Regions from separate parts of the Homo sapiens genome. Here region 1 is linked to region 2. The links come from fine-mapping of genetic effects on gene expression. A gene starts in region 2. The other region holds a variant in brackets. All regions are shown on one strand. Distances are between the middles of the regions.

Region 1 (12,061 bases), 26 kb before region 2:
CCCAGCCTGAAATTAATTTCTTTAAATAAAAAGAGTGGGGCTGGGCACGGTGGCTCACTCCTGTAATCTCAGCACTTTGGGAGGCTGAGGCAGGCAGATCATGAGGTCATGAGATCGAGACCATCCTGGCTAACATGGTAAAACCCCATCTCTATTAGAAATACAAAAAAATTAGCAGGACATGGTGGTGTGCGCCTGTAGTCCCAGCTACTTAGGAGGCTGAGGCAGGAGAATCACTTGAAACCGGGAGGCAGAGGTTGCAGTGAGCCGAGATTGTGCCACTGCACTCCAGCCTGGCAACAGAGCGAGACTCTGTCTAAAAAAAAAAAAAAAAAAAAAAAAGTGAACCTGTTTAATAGTCTTAAGTGGTGCTCAGATATGGCAAAAACAAAGTTTTTTTGTGGCACAGGAGTGACTGGAGTTTGGGAAATATGAGTTTGCCCAGCAGGGACTGAACTTTTTCATTATGATGATAACAATAAAACAGCTACTACTATGTTATGTGCCAGCTATTTCTAGTCTTTATGAATACCCTATGAAGTAGTTATTATTTTACCCATTTACAGACGAGGACACTGAGGCTCAAAAGCTTTAGATAACTTGCCTGGGTCATGCTGTTAGCATGGTGGGTTGTAAAAATGGGCCCATTGTTCCCTTTCCTGTTCCACAGCCCTTTGCCATGTGAGTTTTTGGCTCCTCTCTGCAAGAGGTGGAATTTATTTCTCTATCCTTTGGTCTTGCCTTGGCCACATGACCTGCTTTGGCAAACGAGACATTAGTCAGCACGGCCCAAGCCGAGGCTTGTGAAATGCTGTGTGCTGGGGCTTGTTCTGCTGCTGTCCGGAATCCTTCTGCTACTGCTGCGTGAATGAGAGCCCAGGTTAGCCCTCTGGAGGATGAGAGTCACCAGGCCCAGGCATCTCCATGGCCCCAGCTGACACCAGGCCAACCCTCAGACATCTAAGTGATGACATCCTAAATCATCTAGCCCTACTTGAGCCAGCACAGACCAGAAATGCTCAGCTTGACCTCAGAATCATGAGAAATAAGTCGTAAACCACTGAATTTGGGGGTGATTTTTATTTACTTGTTTTTGAGACAAGGTCTCACTCTGTCACCCAGACTGGAGTGCTGTGGCACAAACATGACTCACTGCAACCTCTATCTCCCAGGCTCAAGCGATCCTCCCAACTCAGCCTCCCAAGTAGCTGGGACCACAGGCATGTGCCACCACAACCAGCTAGTTTGTTTTATTTTGTTTTTTTCCGTTTTTTCTAGAAGCGAGTCTCACCATGTTGCCCAGGCTGGGTGATTTATTGCACAGCAAAGCTAACTGATAGTGTTAGTGAGGAGAAAAGATGGGGCTGGACCTGGATTTTCTCCCTCCAGCCTTTCCCATGTCAGCAAATAACACACATGCCCTAAACCTACAACTTACCTTCCATTTATACTTCTTCATCACTCATCTCATTCAAACCCTCAGGCAAGGCTCCCAAAATACATCTCGAATCTTCCTTCCCAGCACCTCCTCTGCCATTTCTCTAGGCCAGCCTACCTCTTCTATCATCTAGACTGAGAGTCGGCAGACTTACTCTATAGAAGTCCAGATAGTAAATACTTGAGGCTTTGCAGGCCATACAGCCTCTGTTACCGACTTAACCTGCAGCTACAGAAGGAAAGCAGCCAGAGTCAAAAGCAAATGGGTGATGCTGTGTTCCAGGAAACCTTGACTTACAGACACTGGAATTCGAATCTTTACAATTTTATAAAAATTATATATGCCATAAAAAGACTCTACTTTTGATTTTTTTTCCAAACATTTAAAAATGTAAAAACAACTCTATGCTCACAGACCGTATAAAGACTGTATCAGGCAGCAAGCCGGATTTGGTGGATGAGCCAGTGTGCTGACTCCTATTATAATAGCTCTGTCTATAATAGTCCAGCCAGGCTGTGCTTCAGCACTTGCCTCCTGCATTCTGCTCTCCAAACAATGCTGATCTGCTTCTGCTGCTGCTGCTGCCGCCGCCGCCTCCTCCTCCTCCTCTTCTTCTTCTTTTTCTTCTTCTTCGTCTTTTAAATAATTTTAATTAAATTAGGCCAGGTACGGTGGCTCATGCCTGTAATCCCAGCACTTTGGGAGGCCGAGGCAGGTGGATCGTTTGAGGTCAGGAGTTCGAGACCAGCCTGGTGAAACCCCATCTCTACTAAAAATACAAAAATTAGCCAGGCATGGTGGCGTTGGCATGCACCTGTAATCCCAGCTACTCGGGAGGCTGAGGCAGGAGAATCACTCGAACCTGGGAGGCAGATGTTGCGGTGAGTCGAAGTGGCGCCATTGCATTCCAGCCTAGGCGACAAGAGCAAAACTCCATCTCAAAATAAATAAAATAAAATAGATAAGATAAAATAAAAAAAAATAGAGGTGGAGGTCTCACTATGTTGCCCAGGCTGGTTTCGAACTCCTGGGCTCAAGTGATCTCCTGCCTTGGCCTCCCAAAGTGCTGGGATTACCGGTGAGAGCCACTGCACTTGGCCCCGCTCTTCTTAAAAGGCAATGGAATGGCTTTATTCCCCTGCTTATCCCTGTCTTTCCATCTTAGAGTAAAATCTAAACTCCTTACCATGGCATATTGAGTTTGACATCATCTGGCTCCCCCGCCCACTTCTGCAGCCTGCAATTCCTTTCCTTTCCCCACTGCCTTCTGGCCACCCCTGTGTTCTTATAGCTCCTGTAACATGCTGTTCTTTCCTACCCTGGGGCCTTTGAACATGCTGATCCTTCTGCTGGAATATTCTTCCTGTGGCTCTCTGCAGTGCTGGCCACGTTTCCTCCTTTCCTCCTTCAAGTATCATGTTATGTGTCGCCCCTCAGAGGAGCCCTCTCTGACCACACAATCCAAAGTTGCAATTCTCCTCCTGGCTCAGTGATCCTCTGTTTCTTCATGGCACTGTCAATCTGTAATTTTCATACTAACTTTCTCACTTATTAATTGTTTGCCCTTTCTCTAGACTGTCAGCTCCATGCATTTTGCAAAAAACTAGCACAAGGCAGACATGAATATTCAATAAGACATTTGTCGGGTAAAGGAATGAATTACCACCTATGATGGTCAATCTTAGGTGTCAGCGTAACTGGATTAATGACACCCAGACAGCTGGCGAAGCATTATTTTGAGGTGTCTGTGAGGTGTTTCTGGAAGAAACTGGCATTTGAATCAGTGGACTGAGTAAGGAAGATCCATCCTCACTCAATGTCAGGGGGCACCGTCCATCAGCTGAGGGCCAGGATAACAAAAAGGCAAAGGAAAGGAGGATTTGCTCTGTTTTCTGGAGCTGGAACACCCTTCTTCTCCTGCCCTTGGACATCAGAACTCCAGCTTCTCCAGCTTTTGGACTCTGGGACACCAGTGGCCTCCTGGATTCTCAGGCTTTCGGCCTGAGACTGAGTGCTATCAGGTTCTCTGGTTCTGAGGCTTTTGAACTTGGACGGAGCCATGCTACCAGCTTCCCTGGTTTTCCAGCCTGCAGACAGCAGACCGTAGGACTTCTCAGCCCCCATAATTGTGTGAGCCCATTCCCCTAATAAATCCCCTGTCATATACCTATATCTACAAGCCCTATTGGTTTTAGCTCTCTGATTTATACACCGTCTAACTACAATCCCATGACTTTCTTCAGCATCGCATCCTTATCTGTACTGCCTCATTAATCCTATTTTGCAAGTCTTGTTTCACTGCGAGACTCCCCTAGTTCTACACAAAGCTTTCATTTCTTTTTTTTTTCTTCATATACTCAAAACTTTCAAATCACTGAGCTCACAAGTCAACCCACAGCCTCTTATCAAAGGGGTGACCAGCACTAACCAAATTTCTCTGGTGAGCCATTCTGATACCCAGCTCTTTTTCTGCTGCTCTAGGAAATGGCAGTTTCCTCTGTTGTTTGTCTCTTTACTCATCTCTCTCTTAAAACACTATTCTGGGCCAGACATGGTGGCTCACGCCTATAATCGCAGCACTTTGGGAGGCCAAGGTGGATGGATCACCTGAGGTCAGGAGTTCGAGACCAGCCAGCCAACATGAAAAAACCCCGTCTCTACTAAAAATACAAAAAATTAGCCAGGTGCGGTGGTAATGACCTGTAATCCCAGCTACTCGGGAGGCTGAGGCAAGAGAATCGCTTGAATCCAGGAGGCAGAGGTTGTAGTGAGCCAAGATTGTGCCACTGCACTCCAGCCTTGGCGACAGAATGAGACCCTGTCTCAAAAAAATAAATAAATAAAAAGATGTTTTGGGTTCAGATTTGAGAGTTTTTTTCTTTTTGTTTTTCATTTTACTTAAGAAATAGATATAAAATAAGTAGTTTTTTTTGTCTTTTTGTTTGTTTGTTTGTTTTTGTTTTGAGACGGAGTCTCGTTCTGCCGCCCTGGCTGGAATGCAGTGGTGCAATCTCTGCTCCCTGCAACCTCCCCCTCCAGGGTTCAAGCGATTCTCCTGCCTCAGCCTCCTGAGTAGCTGGGACTACAGGATGTGCCACCACTCCCGGCTAATTTTTTGTATTTTTAGTAGAGACGGGGTTTCACTGTGTTTGTTACATGTACATCTGAAATAGTGAAGTAACAGAAAAAGGTAGAATATGAACAAGAATCAAAGTGGGTGGTAAAAACAAAGGCACCACAAGAGTTCAGTGAAGGGTAGAGTCGGTTCCACGGAGGAAGTAGTTGATCTTTGCCCAGTGCCTATTCCACGTTCAGCATTTGTCACACATTTCCTATGTTAATCTTTCCAGGAACACTGAGGTTAATACTCTTCCCCAAATTACTAGTGAGGAAAAAGGCATGGAGAGCTGAAGTGACTTAGCATTGCACAGCAGGATTTGAACCCACCTCTGCCCAATTCTGAGGCTCCTGCTTCCTGCCCTATACCATTTTGTTTCCTGTGGAGCAGGTAAGACTTGAGCAGATCATCAGTGGGATTGCGGTTCAGGCCCAAGCTCTCAGGCAAGATATGGCTGAACAAAGGGAGGAAGGGAAGTTATTTTATGCAAAGGTGTCAGCACAAACAACAGCTTAGAAATGAGTGAGACTGGTGCAGTAGGACAGTCTAGACTTGCCTAAATGAATGCTTCTAATCACAGTTGACCTTAGCTTGCTGTTCTTTAGAATTTGTTTTCTTTTTTAACTTTTTTTTTTTTTTGAGACAGGGTCTCCCTCTGTCCCCCAGGCTGGAGTGAAGTGGTGTGATCTTGGCTCACTGTAGCCTCTGCCTCCCAGGCACAAGTGGTCTTCCCACCTCAGCCTCCTGAGTAGCTGGGCCTGACTACAGGTGTGCACCACCATGCCTGGCTAATTTTTGTATTTTTTGTAGAGACAGGATTTTGCCATGTTGCCCAAGCTGGTCTTGAACTCCTGGGCTCAAGCAATCTGCCAGCCTCAGCCTCCGAAAATGTCGGGATTACATGCACAAGCCACCGCACACGGCTTCTTTTTTTAAAAAACTTTTAATATGCCATTAGTTTAGTGATACTATTACTTAAAGACACATTAGGTTACATTTCAGCAACATTGCTTTTTTACACTATTACCTTTAATGAACATTTTTGTTCATCACAAAATTGTAGCATGTTACCTAACCTGTTAGATAATATTTGTTATCTAACAGATCTTTAAAACTATATCTATGTCTCTGATGATTAATATCTAACACTTTCATACACTTTTCAATCCTTTTAGAAGTCCTCGCAGAGAATGGCTGAGGCTGATTGGGACGCATTAACTGGGGCTCTGGTGAGCCGACTGAGCTGAGTCCCCTGCAGTGCCTGTATGACCTGCACCAACGTGGGAATTGCCATCTCTCCTGCTGGAAAATCAGTGCTGCCTGTGGGAAGCCCGCCCTGGTTGGAGCTGCAGTTTCCTACCAGTTTGGTAAATAGCCTCATTTCTA[C/A]TTTATCTCACTCCACTTTTCCGAACCGGTGACCCAGATGCATTTGGTAGCAAGGGGCCTCACTGGGCTGTGTAGCCAGGCTTCTATATTATTGTAGTAGAAAAAGTGAGAAGTACAAGCTGCCTGAAAATACAGAGGTAAAGGAAGAACACTCATGTAGTTGATTTTATTCAAAACAGACCTGTGTTGGTGACTAAAATGCCCAAATTACCCGGAGATAGATGTAGGTCCGCCCATTTTTGGCTTCTGCCCCATAATTGCAGTGTACTTCTCTCACCACTAGATGACAGTCGCGTTTTAAAGCAGATTTTATTCACGCGTTAATGCTGTTCCAAAAAAAAAATGGTTTTCATACCGTCAGAAGAGGGGCTCACAACTCTTGTGTTAGAGAATATGCGAGAAATCAGGAAATTTCAGACACCACTGGTGGGACATTAAGTCGATGTCACTGTTTTGGAGAGGAATTTGGTGGTAATGTTCAAGCTTTGACCCAGCAGAGACACATCCAGGTCTGATCATTTGATAGGAGGATGGCTAACATTTTGTTCCCACCATGTGTCAGGCACTTTTCTGAATGCTTCGCTCATTCAATCCTCACAATTTCAAGAAGCAGATACTATTATTTTCCCCCAAATTACAGATGAGGAAATCAAGCACAAAAAGGTCAAGTAACAGGCCGGGTGCGGTGGCCCACGCCTGTAATCCCAGCACTTTGGGAGGCCGAGGTGGGTGGATCACGAGGTCAGGAGATCGAGACCATCCTGGCTAACAAGGTGAAACCCCGTCTCTACTAAAAATACAAAAAAAATTAGCCGGGCGTGGTGGCGGGTGCCTATAGTCCCAGCTACTCAGGAGGCTGAGGCACGAGAATGGCGTGAACGCTGGAGGCCGAGCTTGCAGTGAGCCGAGATCGTGCCACTGCACTCCAGCCTGGGCGACAGAGTGAGACTCCCTCTCAAAAAAAAAAAAAAAAAAAGGTCAAGTAACTAGTCCAAGGTCACAGAGCTAGTAAGTGGCAGAGTCACAATCCATACTGCACTTTCCACTATATTGCATGTGTATTGTGTGTACCAGAAAACACGTGCAAAGGTGTTCACTGCTGCATCGTCTGGAGTAGCAAAACACTGTTAACCGAACAGTCCATTAGCATGACAATAAAACAGGAGGGAGAACTGCAGAGGAGTTAAAAGCAGTTATGAAAGATCTAGAATTGGTGAACCTGGAGACATCTCAAAAACAAAGTTGAGATAAAGCAAGTAAATCTAAAAACACAGAAAGCAAAACTATATTATACATGGAAACCAGTACACACAGTAAAACTATACAAAAAAACCCACATCAAATTTATGACGGCATTTGTCTCAGGGGAGAGGGAAATGGGATTAAGAAAACAAGGCAACAGCTTTTATCTGTAATGCTTTTTTTTTTTTTTTTTTTTTTAGAAGACTGAGTCTTGCTCGCTCTGTTGCCCAGGCTGGAGTGGAGTGGCATGGTCTTGGCTCACTGCAACCTCTGTCTCCTGGGTTCAAGCAATTCTCGTGCCTCAGCCTCCCAAATGGCTGGAATTACAGGTGCCCACCACCACGCCCGACTAATTTTTATATTTTTAGTAGAGACGGGGTTTCACCATGTTGGCCAGGCTGGTCTCGATCTCCTGACCTCAGAAGATCCACCCGTCTCAGTCTCCCAAAGTGCTGGGATTACAGGCATGAGACACCGCGCTGGCCTGGTCTATTTTTTGTTGTTGTTGTTGTTTGTTTTAGAGACAAGGTCTCACCCAGGCTGGAGTGTAGTGGTGTGATCATAGCTCTCTGCAGCCTTGGACACCTGGACTCAAGTGATCCTCTTGTCTCAGCCTCCCAAGTAGCTAGGACTATCAGCATGACCCCCATGCCCAACGACTTTTTTTTTTTTTTCCCAAGACAAAGTCTCGCTCTGTCGCCCAGACTGGAGTGCAGTGGCGTGATCTTGGCTCACTGCAAGCTCCGCCTCCCGGGTTCATGCCATTCTCCTGCCTCAGCCTCCCGAGTAGCTGGGACTATAGGCACCCACCACCACGCCTGGCTAATTTTTTGTATTTTTAGTAGAGACAGGGTTTCACTGTGCTAGCCAGGAAGGTCTCGATCTCCTGACCTCGTGATCCGCCTGCCTCGACCTCCCAAAGTGCTGGGATTACACGACTTTTTACTTTTTAGAGATGGGAGTCTTTCTATGTTGCCTAAGCTGGTCTCCAGCTCCTGGCCTCAAGCGATCTTCTAGCCTTGGCCTCCCAAAGCATTGGGTTCAAGGTGTGAACCCCTGCACCTGGCCTGTAACAATCTACATATTTTATATCTATTTCTTAAGTAAAATGGGAAAAAACCCTCAAATCTGAACCCAAAACATTATTTATTTATTTATTTGAGACAGGGTCTCATTCTGTTGCTGAGGCTGGAGTGCAGTGGTGCAATCTTGGCTCACTACAACCACCACCTCCCAGGCTCAAGCGATCCTCCCTCAGCCTCCCAAGTAGCTAGGACCACAGGTGCATGCCACCACACCTGGCTACTTTTTTGTATTTTTGGTAGAGATGGGGTTTTGCCATGTTGCCCAGGCTGGTCTCAAACTCCTGAGCTCAAATGATCCGCCTGCCTCAGCGTCCCAAAGTGCTGAGATTACAGTCATGAGCCACTGTGCCTGGCCATCTTTTTATGATTGGATCTTCACAAATGCATTACTCAACCTGACAATTGTTATTGTCATGGCAACATACAAGCCTTTTGCTCATTCTGGGGTCTCTCCCCAGAGATTCTCTCTAGTTCCCTTCAATAGTATAAATAACTGAAGTGGATCAGTAGGTTAGACTTCCAGCAGAAGCACATATCTGCTTAACTTTTAGGCCTCTGCTGGCGGGAAGGGAGGCAGGAAGGAAAAGTCAGTTCTACTTTTTACTTAGCATTGAGTGATTTAACACATAGCTCCAAACAACTTATTGTTTCTTTAAACATGGAAGTTTCAACTATTCTCTATTTTGTTTCTTAATGTTTTTTACTCCAATGATTCCCTTCCTTCACTCTTTTGTTGAGGGGTGGGCAGGAACACAGGGTAGGTTATAATCAAATATTTAATTGCTCGGGTGGAAAGCCTCAGTGATTAAAACAAAGTACCCTTCTCCAATTCCTTTTAAAGCCAGTAGCCAAATTGGTTACCTAGGAACACACTGACTTATGACTAACCCCCTTCCTGTATTTACCAAGGTCAACACATATGAAACCGTAGGTCATACACTGACGAGTTTTCCTAGAATTATAATAGGGTTATAGAGGCTAATGTTCTCAGATTATCAGGCTCTGAGGAAGAGGCCAGGTGTAAGGAGGAAAAAGGCCATACATGTATGTGTATATATTTATACTTTTTTTTTTTTTTTTTTGGAAAAAACAAAATTGGCTTTTGTGTCAGCATGGAACTTCTGTCAGTTGCTGACTGCATTGGTAAGAATGGGTAGAACTGTGGAGGAAAAGGAAATGCAGTTAGCTTTGAAGCCAACGGATTTTCTCAAAACTAAACACTGGAAGGCAACATTCTGTACTTCTGAGAAAGCCTCCTCAGAAAAGCAATATACACACACCTCCTTTAAAAAAATGTAAATTATCCTTGAGCGTCTCTCCTTATTTTGAATGCTGTTTCATTTCACTGGAGTTTCATATGCAGTATTTCACTTCGGCAAAGAGATGGCAACCAACAATTCCTAACATACGTGTTAATTCCTTTTTTTTTTTTTTTTTTTTTGAGACGGAGACTCGCTCTGCTGCCCAGGCTGGAGTGCAGTGGCGTGGCCTTAGCTCACTGCGACCTCTGCCTCCTGGGTTCAAACAATTCTCCCGTCTTAGTTCCCCAAGCAGATGGGACTACAGGTGTGCACCACCAGGCCCAGCTAGTTTAATTTTTAGTAGAGAAGCAGGGTTTCACCATGTTGGCCAGGCTGGTCCTGAACTCCTGACCTCAAGTGATTCACCCGCCTCGGCCTCCCAAAGTGCTGAGATTACAGGCGTAAGCCACTGCCTCATACATGTTAATTCTTGAAAAACTGCAACTCATTTAGAAACTCAAATTTGACTTTCTCCTCCTATGCTTTCGTAGTAACAATAACTTTTTCCGTTGACATTAACATCTCAGGAGATGTGACCCCCGAGGAGTATCATGATTATCAGGAGAAACTGGTGAGCCCTTGAGGTCAAGAAAACCTGCCCAGGGATTTACCTTCTCTGTTCTTATACCAACCACATCCTCCTGGTCACACTCTCCTGAGGGGCTCCCTCATAGAACTTTTCAGGCCACCATTATCTTGGGAGACTCCTAGTACAAAGTCACAGGTCTGAGACAAATTTCTATTTACATAACAGAACACCTGTATTAAAATGAAATTTTGCAGCTGGACATAGTGACTCACGCCTGTAATCCCAGCACTTCGGGAGGCTGAGGCAGGCGGATCACCTGAGGTCAGGAGTTTGAGACTACCCTGGTCAACATGACGAAGCCCTGTCTCTACTAAAAATACAAAAATTAGCAGGGCATGGTGGTGCACGCCTGTAATCCCAGCTACTTGGGAAGCTGAGGCAGGAGAATTGCTTGAGCCCGGAAGGCGGAGGCTGCAGTGAGCCCACCGCACTCCAGCCTGGCTGACAGAGCCAGATGGTCTCAAAAAAAAAAAAAAAGAAAAATAAAAAGAAATTTTGTTAGGTCTAGCCTCCTAAATTCTAGGTTGAGGCTTATTAGAGCAGAGTGGCAAACTCTGCTAGCACAACTTTTAATTGCCTCACTTCATTTTTGACTGGAATTTACAGGCTACAGAAATATGTATCTGCAGCTTGAGAAAAACCCACATGAATGCAGAAGTGTATAGAGATAATACAAAGGTCCCCCTTGATCCTCCCATCTCCTACCTGAATATTGCTTTCCTTGCTAGGTGACCGTGGCTGAGGGCTTAGTGAGGAGGCTTTTTTTTTTTTTTTTTTTTAAACGGAGTCTCGCTCTGTCGCCCAGGCTGGAGTGCAGTGGCGTGATCTCGGCTCACTGCAAGCTCCGCCTTCCGGGTATACGCCATTCTCCTGCCTCAGCCTCCGGAGCACCTGGGACTACAGGCGCCCGCCACGACGCCCAGCTAATTTTTTGTATTTTTAGTAGAGACGGGGTTTCACCGTGTTACCCAGGATGGTCTCGATCTCCTGACCTTGTGATCCGCCCGCCTCGGCCTCCCAAAGTGCTGGGATTTCAGGCGTGAGCCACTGCGCCCAGCCGAGGACGCTTTCTTTTATGCACTTACACAGAACTCTCACCAAAGCTATTGGGCTTGTAAAATTCTGAATTATAAAAAAAGTGCAAACAATTTCCAGGTTTATAAAATTATCCTATAAACACACAAAGTAAACAAAACCAAAGCTTCATTACTCATATCTTGTATTTTATTTCTTATGAAAATGGCTACCCAAAGAAGTCATTGTAGCAGGCTACTATTTTAAGGCAGCAACTGTATAACTTAAATGCTAAGACTCACTCCATAAGACAGAAAACCCTTCCCCAGGGCTGTAATGGGCATTTAAGTTTCCCAAACCCAGGGACAACTAATTTTTATTACCTATTGAATAGAAACAAATGGATTTTAATAGTTCCCCTCCCCTATAGCTGAAAAACTCCACAAACAATAATTGACTCTATCTACATGATCTGTTGACTCACGCCAGAAATAGTTACTAAAACACTTAGAATTGTGATGTTCAAACTGGCCTCTGGCTACTTCTGGGGGGTTATTTGGTGTTACGCAATGACATATTGCCAGCGACATGGTGAATATACTGTCTTTATAGTCAGCAATGTTTAGTTGAGGCTAATCACGTATTTATTTTTTCAAAAGGTTAAATGTAAGCTTTTCCCAGCTGAAATATATAGAAAACCCCAATGTATGAAACAAGTTTTAGGCATTGGTGTTGGCAGCGGTAGTGGGCTGATGTGTCCTCCCTGCACACAGCTGGGGGCATGTAGCCCCTTCCCCTCTGGGTGAACCCTGGGGAAATCTTGGCACCCTCAGCCTCACTGCCTTCCAATCTCAGCTCAAAGACTGGGCATCCTGCCTGGGACCACGC
Region 2 (11,471 bases):
TGGCAGGTACCTTGCTTTGGGGGAGGGGAAGGACAGGCTGGCAAACAGGCCATGTTAGGGAGATTGAAAAATCTCGGCCAGGTGCAGTGGCTCACGCCTGTAATCCCAGCACTTTGGGAAACCAAGGTGGATGGATCACTTGAGGTCGGGAGTTTGAGACCAGCCTGGCCAACATGGTGAAACCCTGTCTCTACTAAAAATACAAAAATTAGCCAGGTGCGGTGGTGCATGCCTGTAGTCCCAGCTACTCAGGAGGCTGAGGCAGGAGAACCGCTTGAACCTGGGAGACGGAGGTTGCAGTGAGCCAAGATTGCACCACTGCACTCCAGCTTGGGTGACACTCCGTCTCAAAACAAAACAAACAAACAAAGAATATACCTTTCTCCAGCAAACAATTTGATTTTGGAGTACTGGATGACAAAGGTTACGTGGCTCTTCTCCTTGTACCTGTTCTCAACCCCGCCCCACCCAATTCTTTTACCTAGCACAAAGGTCTGGACATTAAACAGACAGAGGCTACAGTACCTACAGGCACACCTTTGACAGGCACCATCTGTCCTACGCTGTATTAATTCACCTCCAATCTCATACTTACTGATACTCAGCCACACAGTCCAGCAGACCTATATAGTTTAAGGTTTCATGTTGAACAGCACTTTCAAGAGCTCGCACTCCACTGACATCTTTCAGAATATGCTGGACACTTTCAATGTAACCAGACTTGAGGAGATTTTCATCTCTCTCTTTTAAGGTTTCCTGGGGTGAAAGTATGCTTTCCAAGGCTTCGTGGAACCGTTTCCCTTGTAAAAAGACGTCTGAAAAGAAAATCAGGGAAAAGGGGAGGGGGGAAACACAAACAAAGCTAACACTGAAAAACAAATACTCTAAAACGCCCTGAAACAATACAATTAAAAATGACATTTTTTTTTCTTTTTTTTTTTTTTGGATGGAGTCTCCCTCTGTCGCCCAGGCTGGAGTGTAGTGGGCGATATTGGCTCACTGCAACCTCTGCCTCCTGGGGTCAAGTGATTCTCCTGCCTCAGCCTCCTGAGTAGCTGGGATTACAGGCGCCCGCCACCGTGCCTGGCTAATTTTTCTACTTTTAGTAGAGATGGGGTTTCACCATATTGGTGAGGCTGGTCTCGAACTCCTGACCTCGTGATCTGCCAGCCTTGGCCTCCCAAAGTGCTGAGACTACAGGCATGAGCCACCGTGCCCGGCCAAAAATTACATTAGTTATTTTTAAGTGACAACCCCTAAGACCAAATTTCAGCCTCTTGTGAAACCTAAGAATATACTTTGAAACCAACGGGATTATTAATAGGACGTTAGGTAATAAAATGAATTAAAATTAAGTACTTCTAGGAGAATTGGGCCAAAGTCAAAACTGAAGATCTGGCGGCTACAAGACCACATCCAGTTTATGGTACTATGTGTTTAAGTATCCAATGTAATAAGTTAACTGGCTGTGATAAAATAAAAAAAAATTAGAAATCTAGGGAACTGTGCTTCTGTTTGTAGTTCTTTTTAGACCAAAACTTAATTATGAACATAGGTGGGGGAATCCTTTTACTAACAGGATTAGTGACAAACAAGGAATGGAAAATAAGGCATGCGCAAATGAAAAGTTATGAATTTGATATTATGGAATCTGGAGGGGGAGGAAGAGGAAAATATGTGACATTCTTCTCCTGTATTTTTTTTTTAGTGCTGGAACAGCCTGAAAAATTCAGCTGTGTCTCAATTTTTTTCCCTCATACATTTTTCTATTCTAATATTTAATATTTAACATGTAATATTTTTCTAATTAGCTTTAGATTATTAGAATTCTGATTTATGGCTTGTAGGAGGACACATCTTCTTTCTTCCTAACATTTTATAACATGTGAATACTAGAGAAATTTCATTAGGACACATTAGGACACATTATTTTTCCTGTATGTTCATTTTCTGAGGTCAAAGCCTTACTTTTCGTCCCCAGGTTTCTCCGAAAGAACTGTAGTGTCTGGATTTGTTGGCGTATCCCAGGATCTAACTTGATTTTTGAACTCTCTCCTCATTTTCAGTGCTCGTTGGCCTCCAAGCGCTTGCATAGTAAGCCCCCTCCTCATACACATTTTAAAAAAGGGAACATGGCCGGGCATGGTGGCTTATGCCTATAATCCCAGCACTTTGGGCAGCCAAGGCAGGCGGATTACCTGAGGTCAGGAGTTCAAGACCAGCCTGGCCAACATGGTAAAACCCAGTCTCTACTCAAAATACAAAAATTAGCCAGGTGTGGTGGCGCATGCCTGTAATTCCAGCTACTCTGGAGGCTGAGGCAGGAGAATTGCTTGAACCCAGGAGGCAGAGGTTGCAGTGAGCCAAGATCATGCCACTGCACTCCAGCCTGGGTGACAGAGCAAGACAATCTCAAAAAAAAAAAAAAAAAAAAAAACACACAAAGAGACTCAACAAACACAAGAAATATATTCACTTGTTTCTTAGTAAGAGGAGAGAAAGAGGGGGGACTGTTATGCTAAGCAATGGCCTTGGAGCTTTCAAAACATTATTTAATTTTCAAACCCAACAACCCAGCAAAATAGGGATTGTAAGTTACCCCCATTTTAATGAATGAGGCCCTATCCCACCAGGCAGTGCTGTTAATTTGCCCCAAAGCAAAAAGCTGGACAGGCAGCCTGGCACCAGAATCTGTTTCCAATCTACCACACAGTAGAGCAAAGGAAGCAATCTTGGAAATCACCAATTAGATACTCAGAGAAACAGAGCAGGAAATACACGTGCTTGGAACATGCTTGCAGAGAGACCCACAGAAAAGGCGGAAAACAACTTTACATTTGTCAAGTTTTTTTTTTTTTGAGACAGGGTCTTACTTGTCACCCAGGATGGAGTGTACTGGCTCGATCATTGCTCACTGTAACCTTGAACACCTGGCCTTAAGCAATCCTCCTGTCTCAGCTTCCTCTACAGGCATGTGCCACCACGCCTGGCTAATTCAAAAAAATTTTTTTTTTGTAGAGATGCAATCTCTCTACGTTGCCTAGGCTGGTCTTAAACACCTGGCCTCAAGCAATCGTCCCACCTTGGTCTCCCAGAGTGCTGGGATTACAGGCATGAGCCACTGCACTCGGCCTTCAACTATTTTTTACAAAGATGGAAATGTCAATTCTTTTTTTTTCCAGGCTGGAGTGCAGTGGTATGATCTCGGCTCACTGCAATCTCCACCTCCCAGGTTCAAGCGATTCTCCTGCCTCAGCCTCCGTAGTAGCTGGGATTACAAGTGATCGCTGCGCCCGGCTAATTTTTTTGTATTTTTAGTAGAGATGGGGTTTCGCCATTTTGGCCAGGCTGGTTTTGAACTCCTGACCTCAAGTGATCCGCCTGCTTCGGCCTCCCAAAGTGCTAGGATTACAGGCATGAGCCACTATGCCCAGCTGGAAATGTCAATTCTATCATTAGCAAAAAATGGAATCCCTTCTGAAAAATTATTTGGAGAGTTAAATGAAATTCAACTTAGGAACTAAGTTATTCTACTCCAAATTTACTTGACTCAATTGGAATTATTAACACGTGAAAGACCTACAAGAAATTTATGACTGATGGAATTAAAGCCTAGGAAAAAGAAGTGTATAGCATTCATCTACACACTAGGTTAATGAAGCAGAAGACAAACATGTTAAAAACAGGAAGAAAAAAACTTAGCAAATGCCATGCCAATAGACCATACATTTCTCGCTGCAAACTTACCCCTGGCTAGGTTCTTCATATACACATGATCACAAACATGAAAACCTAGATTACAGGATCCTTTAGACACTAAGGCTCAGAACATTCAACATGATTCAATTTATAAAAATAAAAAATGATCCAAGAATATTCACTGCATGTAGCATCAAGTCTGCTTATTCACTCAAAGTAATGAAAGTGAAATGTTTTCAAGTCCTCGTATATGAAGTGCACTAAAAAAAACCTTCATGCATCTCCAGTATTCTCATGATGGAACTGGCAGGATGGCTAATACTTCAGGATTAAATCAGCGTAGCAAAAAAAAAAAAAAAAAAATTAAAACCTAAACCCCATCCCTTTGTGTGTATTTATACACAAAATATAAATCAGAATAAGTCAGACTTTCTCATTCCCACCAGTCTTCAAAAGATGAACTGATGCTTGGGAAACTGCTCAAGTATTTGGAAGAATGCCAGACACATTTCTATGCTCTCACCTTTGAGAAGACTGGGTAGAAATTACTGATCCAATATTTTTCATTAAAAAAATCTTCTTAATTTTTAAAATGTAATTCTTCTTGGGTGCCACCTTCTTGGGTTTGGGATCCAGTATCCTCCAGACCCGTTAATCAATTTAGTGAGCCCTTTTTCTTTTATTCACCATGACACTAATTGTCCCTTTATTTATTTCAGAACCCACTGCTTACTAATACTTATTTTCTAAAAAGAGTGATTCTGCCTGGGCACAGTGGGTCACACCTGTAGTCTCAGTATTCTGGGAGGCCGAGGTGGGAGCACCACTTGAAGACAGGAGTTGGAGACTAGCCTGGGCAACATAGGGAGACCCTTGTCGCTACAAAAAATAAAAAAATTAGCCAGGCATGGTGGTGCACGCCTGTGGTCCCAGCTACTCAGCAGGCTGAGATGGGAGAATCACTTGGGTCCCGGCGGTCAAGTCTGGGCGGGGTGCTGGGGTAAGCGATTCTGCTCATTTCTTAAGGTTGCTACTGAGTTAACTGAGAAACACAGCTGAGTGCTAATCTAGATCAACAAAGCTGACTCTATGAAAAAAAAAACAACCAGTCTTCTCTCTGCCTGGGCTATTGGGGCTCATTCACATTCCAAACAGAAATTCCTCTCTGGTGCACTTCCTTACTTTGTGCCAAGAGCTACAGGCCCTGGGGTCCCATGTGTTCCAGCAGGTTTCTGCCTTTTAATAATACATTTCTTATTAGTAATTTCAGCTGTACATTCCTGGTTTAAGGAAAATAACTTCTCATGAGAAAACTATCAATTCTAAATTTTAGTGGTACAAATACAAAACTGTAAGATGCCATTAGAAGATTTTTATGTTGCTTGCTTGGAAAGCAGACAATAGTTTGGTGGTTGCTACTAATTAACTATCTTAGGAAGGCAGTTAGCTCTTGCATATATAATCCTTGCCCCACACAGCTGAGGAATATTATAAGGAGCAAAGGCCTTGACCATTTGGTACATATCCAATACCACCTATATATACTTAGTATTTTTCTTTAGAACATGTGACATGTTTAATGTGTTACACGCATAGTTTTAGGAGTCTGGATTAGGGAAAAGACGACTTAAATAGAAGCCCAGGCTATGGCAAGGGTCAGTACACTATTCTTAAAACAAAAATGAAAGAGTTTGTGTACTACTAAGAGTACATGTACTGCACTTTGGGAAGCTTGGGTAAAGGAATGATTGATGTGAAACTTTCCTTTAACAAAAGACCCCTATATAATTTATGGGACTAGCTAATTCACCAGTGCCAATGGTCTTTGTTTTTGAATGGAATATTAAATTTAAGGAAGCTATTCTCCTCACTTGTCCAAGTTAGTAAATTAGAAGTTGAAGGTTAAAGTGTATTTATCCTCAGATCCTTATGAAGAACCTCTGATTATGTTTACCAAGGTCTAAATATAGGTCATGTGTTCTGGTCTGCTTCAAGGTCTTTAAATTTACGAGTCAGTTTACGCTAATAAGTAGGACAGTGGGTATTTACTGGATTCTAAACAGAATTATCTAGCAAACAACTAGAATTCTGTTACCAGGTGACTTTTTTCAATAATCAAGGAAAACAAGCAATTCTAATATTGTTGGTAGCTTATAAAACAAGTGAATTTTATGTATTATTTAGTCAAATATTTGATCTATTTTAGTTTCATCTGTAAAATGTGGATAACAGTATCTATACTCCACAGGACTACCATGAGGATCAAGTGAGTTAATACACATAAAGTGCTATTTAATGTTAATTACTATCTGAAGGGAGTTCCTTGCTAGTAAGTTAAAAAAACAAAACCAAACCTCATTCTTTTGACACCGTTGCTCTCTATTATAGAAAACATAGCAAACATATAGAATCAGAATTGAGATAATTACTTGAAGTGTATTCTTTAAAGCCATCTTCTCCCAGTTCCAGAATCATCCGCTGTTTCCACCTCTCCAACAAGAAAACCTGTTGTTTTGTCATGGTCTGCTGAAGGACTCGGGTCACACTTGGTATCACATTCCTTTGCAAGGGGATTTTCAAAGGAACTGAAGGATCACTTGCATTTGGTTTATCACTTCTCTCTGGATTGAAGATAGGAAACCAGTTTTGTGGCACTCGTCTGTCCTCACCTTGGTTTGGCAGCTTATGCTTGCTCACGGGTCCACAGAGCAAAGCATCTTCCTCCACCGATCCCGGGGTCTGGGCGACGCCTCTGGATGACAAGACAGACTGAACTAAATTAGAGTATTTTTCTTGGTCCACTTCTTCATATGGGTTCACTTTTTTCTTCCGGCCACATGAGTAAGAGGAAGTAGAGAAAGCCACAAGGGCAGCTGATTCCACAGAAAACTTTGAACTCCTGAGCTGCCTGCAAATGGTCTGAAATAACTTCATCTTCATTCAGATTTGTTTTCACTTTAGTCTATTTGCAACGGTCGAAGGCCTTTATGTTTGTATTCCTATTGGAGAGAAAACAACCATCAAAGCGAAAGCTGCATCAGAATGATATTGCACATCAAAATTGTGAACTTTTTCGACATGTTTGGACAGAGCCCTTTCTTAAGAAAGTCGACAGAGCGAGACCCTGCCTCCAAAAAAAATTTATAAATAAATCAAGACTCAATACCCGAAGGACCGACACATACTAAATGCGAATTAGTAGACAGCTTGAGGCAAGACGTCCCAGTTTCTAATCTGCAGGAATGTGACGCCCAGGAAGGGAGGCGTGTGCGAGACACGGAAAAACACAAAGATGGAGCCCGTCCCATGGCGGCCACACAGTCCTAGGTGACAGACGACGACTAATTCCTAGACACCAGGCTCTCTGCTAAGTATTCTGTGTGGATACTTCTCATTTGGTCCTCACACCCTCTACCGTGGGTCTAGAATGAACCCGTTGCACAGACGTGGAAATCGGGTTGGAGGGTCCCGTCGCTCGCCGGTCAGAGCTGGTGGCGGCGCTGAGGTCCCATTACTGTGACCGCAAAAAGTCGCCTCCCGCTCCGCCGTGGGTGCGGACCCCTGGCGGGGCCAGGACGGCGGTGGCCCCTGTGGCAGGAGTCTGGATTAGAGAAAAGACGACTTAAATAAAAGCCCAGCCTACGGCAAGTGTCGGTACCTTGGAAGCCACCACACTTCGCTTAACTCTCAAGGCGCGAACAACCTCTCGCGACCCGTACTTTCATCCGTCCCGCGCTTTGGTTTCGAATTAGGCACAGCCTAAGGCAAAGCAGGTCCAGAATGCCCCGCGGCGCTCACGCCCCACCCGAGGCTTTCGTCGGCCTCCGCCAACGCGCCACCAGTTAGAGGCAGGGAGTACCTCTCCGAGCGGAAGGGCCGGCGTCTCCGAAGCGCGGGAGCCTCCAAATCGCGCCCTTCTGCTCTCACGAGATCTGGTGACGTCAGCGCTCGCTGCCATCTTGGACTCGGGCTGAGTAATAAATTCCCCCCGCACCGAAACGCGGTCTTTCTCTAGACGCGTCTTGCTGGGAGAGTGTCCGTTGCTTCCCGTCCGTGTCGCGGCCCTGCGGTTGGCGGCCTCCTCGTGGAGCGGAGCAAGGGTAGGCCCCACGTGGCGTCTTTGCCCGGCTCCAAGATGGACGGCAGCGGGGACTGGGAGGCTGCTCTGGGGGAGCACGTGGCGCCCTGCTCGCCTGCTCCCGGGGCAGCTGGGATGGTGGCGGAGTCCGGAGGCCTCCTGCCGCCGTCGGGCAGGGAGGCCGGCGGAGGCGGGGCCGTGGCCGCCCCCGAGAGGCGCCCAGGCGGCGGCGGCGGCGGCCCAGCTTCTTCTTTCCTCGCACAGCCAGGCGGCCCCTGCTCGAGTCCCGCGTCGCCATGGCCGCGGTTCCCGAGTTGCTGCAGCAGCAGGAGGAGGACCGCAGCAAGGTGAGGTCCTCCCAGCCTCAGACTCCTGGGCGGGCGGCCCTGCGAGCTCCGGGGTCGCTGCATTCTTTCCCTTGCGCGTCCATAGGCCGTGGCTGCTCGCCGCCATCCCCAGCGCGGGAAGCACCCGTGAGACCCGGGCGGCCCCTCTCCCTGGTCTTCACTGAAGGCTGCCCCGGGGAATCCCTGTGGATGTCCCGGATTCTATTAGGACAGAACCAGAGACGCGGGACCTTAGCCCCAGCTCAGGCGCCGGTGCCGAGCGGACTTGGAGAGATGATCTCTGGAGACCCCGGAATGTTCTTTTTAAAACTTTCCTCGGCTTCGTGGTGACCAGTAGGTGAACGTGAAATTGACTTAACATGCGACAGACCAGTTTGGTTTGTTGCCCCCAAAATACCCTCCTTCCCCCCACCTTTTACTGAGAAGACTTTTTTGGGGGGGGGGCCCAAACAACTTGGGAAATTGCATCAAGCGTCCGAACATGCTGCTTACAACTTTAGAAACGCAAAATGCGTTGTTGTGGGAGTTGTGTAATTTTTAGTAGGTGCTCAAATACTTGCTGAACTTGGTGTCTATTTTTAAGTCTTGCCCATTGATGTAAACTGTCCCTAGGTCACGTGTATCTTGAGGTCTAAAAGATTATTTATGCAATAAATTGAAATTCCCATAGCCAATTAAAGATTCAGACGAGCCTCCACTCTTTTTCATTGGTTCTTTAAATTTGCCTCGGTAGCTTTGCGATGCATGGTTTGCGAGCAACCTTTCTTGCAGAATCGTCAACGTAAGTTTTTCTGACCGATGAAAAAGAACCTCTAAAAATACAAGGCTCTCTTAAAATGTAATTTGGAGCCGTCTTAACTTACACATTTCTTGAGAAGTTAAAGGCACCTCCATAGAGAAACTTGTTCATCTAGTAAGTAAATACCAGAGTTTCAAAGCGGCTGGATTGTTCCAACAAGGGTATCATTGCATTAATTATTAAAATAGAGCTTTCTATACAGGAGGGTGTTGTTTAGAGTGGTTTTTTTTTTGAAAGTTCTTTATTACTAAAACAAAGTGGAAACTTGAGACCACGATTCTTTGTAAAACATTATAAAGGTACTTTTCTCCATAAAGGGTAGATAATGGATTGGGATTTTGGTAGCATTTTATTTTTTCTTTCTTTCTGGTACATTCTTTTAGCTGTCTTGATTCGGAGTCAGCTAGGTAAAAGGACTCAATTGCTTCACCCCACTCTCTGGTAGTACAGTATATTGCAGCTGGTTTTTAAAATGACTTCCACCACCCTGATCCTCCAGCAAAATTGGAGAATGGTTATGAAGGCCATTTCCTGCCTGTTTTAGAGGCTACAGAAACTGTCCGTATCTGTAGCGAAGAGAGTTACATGACATTGTTTTCCTTTTTACATTACAGGAATAAAGAGACAATAAAAATAAATAATTACCCTGACGCGTGGCTTTATTTTTGTTTTCTGATCTCTGCTGATGCTGATAACCTGCTGTGGTCTGGCCTAGATGGTGTTATGGTTAACTGAAAGGGAGTTTGGGGCAAGTATGAAATAATGGGAAACTAAGTCTTGGGCAACTTTTTGCCATAATACAATTTCGGTAGTCAACTGAAATGTTTTGTGTGTTACCTGAAATGTGTGTTACTTAAATTGTTTAAATGCCCTCCTGATAATTTACTTTGGTTTGGAATTCTCCCTAAGGATGGAGTTAATTAAGACTCACTAAGGTAGGGGGACATACTTGATTCTTCAGGATTTTGAATTCTAGCCCAATACTCATTTTGGCCAATTCAGCAAAACTGAAAGGGAATACTGTGTCAGTCGTGTCTGGTAGCCAGACACTGGCATTTTGTTACATTCTTTAGCCGAGGGTGTTGGGGTTTGCCTTCTTCCTCAGAAAATAGTTCAGGGGAAGAGATGCATGGTTAATTTGGTTCCTAACTGGTCCTCTATTTACTGGTTTTTGATTTTTTTTTTTTTTTTGAGACGGAGTCTCGCTCTGTCGTCCAGGCTGGAGCGCAATGGCTCGATCTCAGCTCACTGCAACTTCCGCTTTCTGGGTTCAAGCGATTCTCCTGCCTCAGCCTCTCAAGTAGCTGGGATTACAGTCGCTCACCGCCATGCCCGGCTAATTTTTGTATTTTTGTGGAGACCGGGTTTCACCATGTTGGCCAGGCTGGTATTTGAACTCGACCTTCGCAGCCTAGTGCTATTTTTAACTAGGGGGTTCTCCTTCCTTGACAGTAACAACTTGGCCTTAACTTACTGCTTGGTTACAGGGACTTTGGTGAATGATATCTGTCCTCTTACCTACTCAGGAGTGTTTGTAGACTAAGTACTGCTGCTCTGGTTTCGTGTTTAACTGGTGTGGAAGCTGCCTCTAGGGGTATTTTTGTTCTCCATTAGCTAGAATGGAGTGCAGTTGGTTAGTATAGGAACAATCCTGAACTTTGACCAATACCATAGCAAGTCCAAACTTACAAACTTTGTGGACTGAAGCTTTATGCTACCCTTGCAACTATTTTCTAAGTTGAGGAAGTATGACGTATCAAGCTTCCCACGCCTTAGTTCTAGTTCAGTAACTTGTACTCGGTGTCTTAAGATCCCCATTTGTGAATACTCTAAAAGGTCATTATCTGTTCACATTATTTTGGCCATAGGTAGAAATGGCCAAGAGGCTTTTTTTTTTTTTTTTTTGAGACAGGGTCTGGCTCTGTCACCCAGGCGGGAGTGCAGTGTCACGATCACAACTCACTGCAGCCTCGACCTGGGGAGCTCAGGTGATCACCCCCACCTCAGCCTCCTGAGTAGCTGGGGCTACAGGCACACACCAGCATGCCCACCTAATTTTTGTATTTTTTGGTAGAGATGGGGTTTCACCATCCAGTTCAACATGCCGGGATTACAGGCATGAGCCATTGTGCTTGGCCAAGGCTGTTAAGTTTTCTAGATTTGTTTCTGAGCTGTAAACTCCTCATTCGGTGAGACCTAGTGGTCATCTAAACTAGAGGTTGAGTTTAAAATTCAGTTTCTCAACCTGGGGAGCACTGTTGACATTTTAGCCTGATCACTTTTGTTGAGGAGTGCCCTCTGGGTTGTAGGATGTGAAGCAACTGTTTTTGGCCTCTGCTAGGACGCGGCCTCCTCCCCTCCCATGGTGATAAGAAGTCAAAATTGCCTGTTTGAGAATCACTGGTTTAAACGGACTTCCTTCTAAAATGGTGTGATATGGGTGGGGTCAGGTTGTGTTACAGAAGCTAGTCTTTGTGTGCTTGTTGCGAATTTTTCAGGTTTTCTATTAATCTTGCCTAAGGAAATAACATGCCATGTAAAAATTAGC

The links. PIP is the estimated chance that this variant, and not a neighbour inherited with it, causes the effect.
Region 1: its variant is fine-mapped to the expression of MGME1 in blood mononuclear cells (TOPMed, PIP 0.94).

The regions. Positions count from the first base shown.
Region 1 is chr20:17,990,423-18,002,483 of GRCh38, reverse strand. MGME1 (mitochondrial genome maintenance exonuclease 1) reads right to left here. Exons shown (of 5, transcript NM_052865.4): 5 at 11,362-12,061. Among named protein-coding and RNA genes, the nearest start is that of MGME1, 27 kb to the right of the region's middle. RefSeq lists enhancers at 2,058-2,559, 6,284-6,353. The variant C/A (reference allele first, on the strand shown) is at 5,943.
Region 2 is chr20:17,965,028-17,976,498 of GRCh38, reverse strand. MGME1 (mitochondrial genome maintenance exonuclease 1) reads right to left here and starts at 7,481. Exons shown (of 5, transcript NM_052865.4): 1 at 7,358-7,481; 2 at 6,129-6,698; 3 at 596-815. The coding sequence starts at 6,639. SNX5 (sorting nexin 5) reads left to right here and starts at 7,705. Exons shown (of 13, transcript NM_014426.4): 1 at 7,705-8,124. The coding sequence starts at 8,074. RefSeq lists enhancers at 6,487-6,616, 6,637-6,836, 5,776-6,975, 7,557-7,866, 7,483-8,237 and 4 more and a silencer at 7,867-8,076.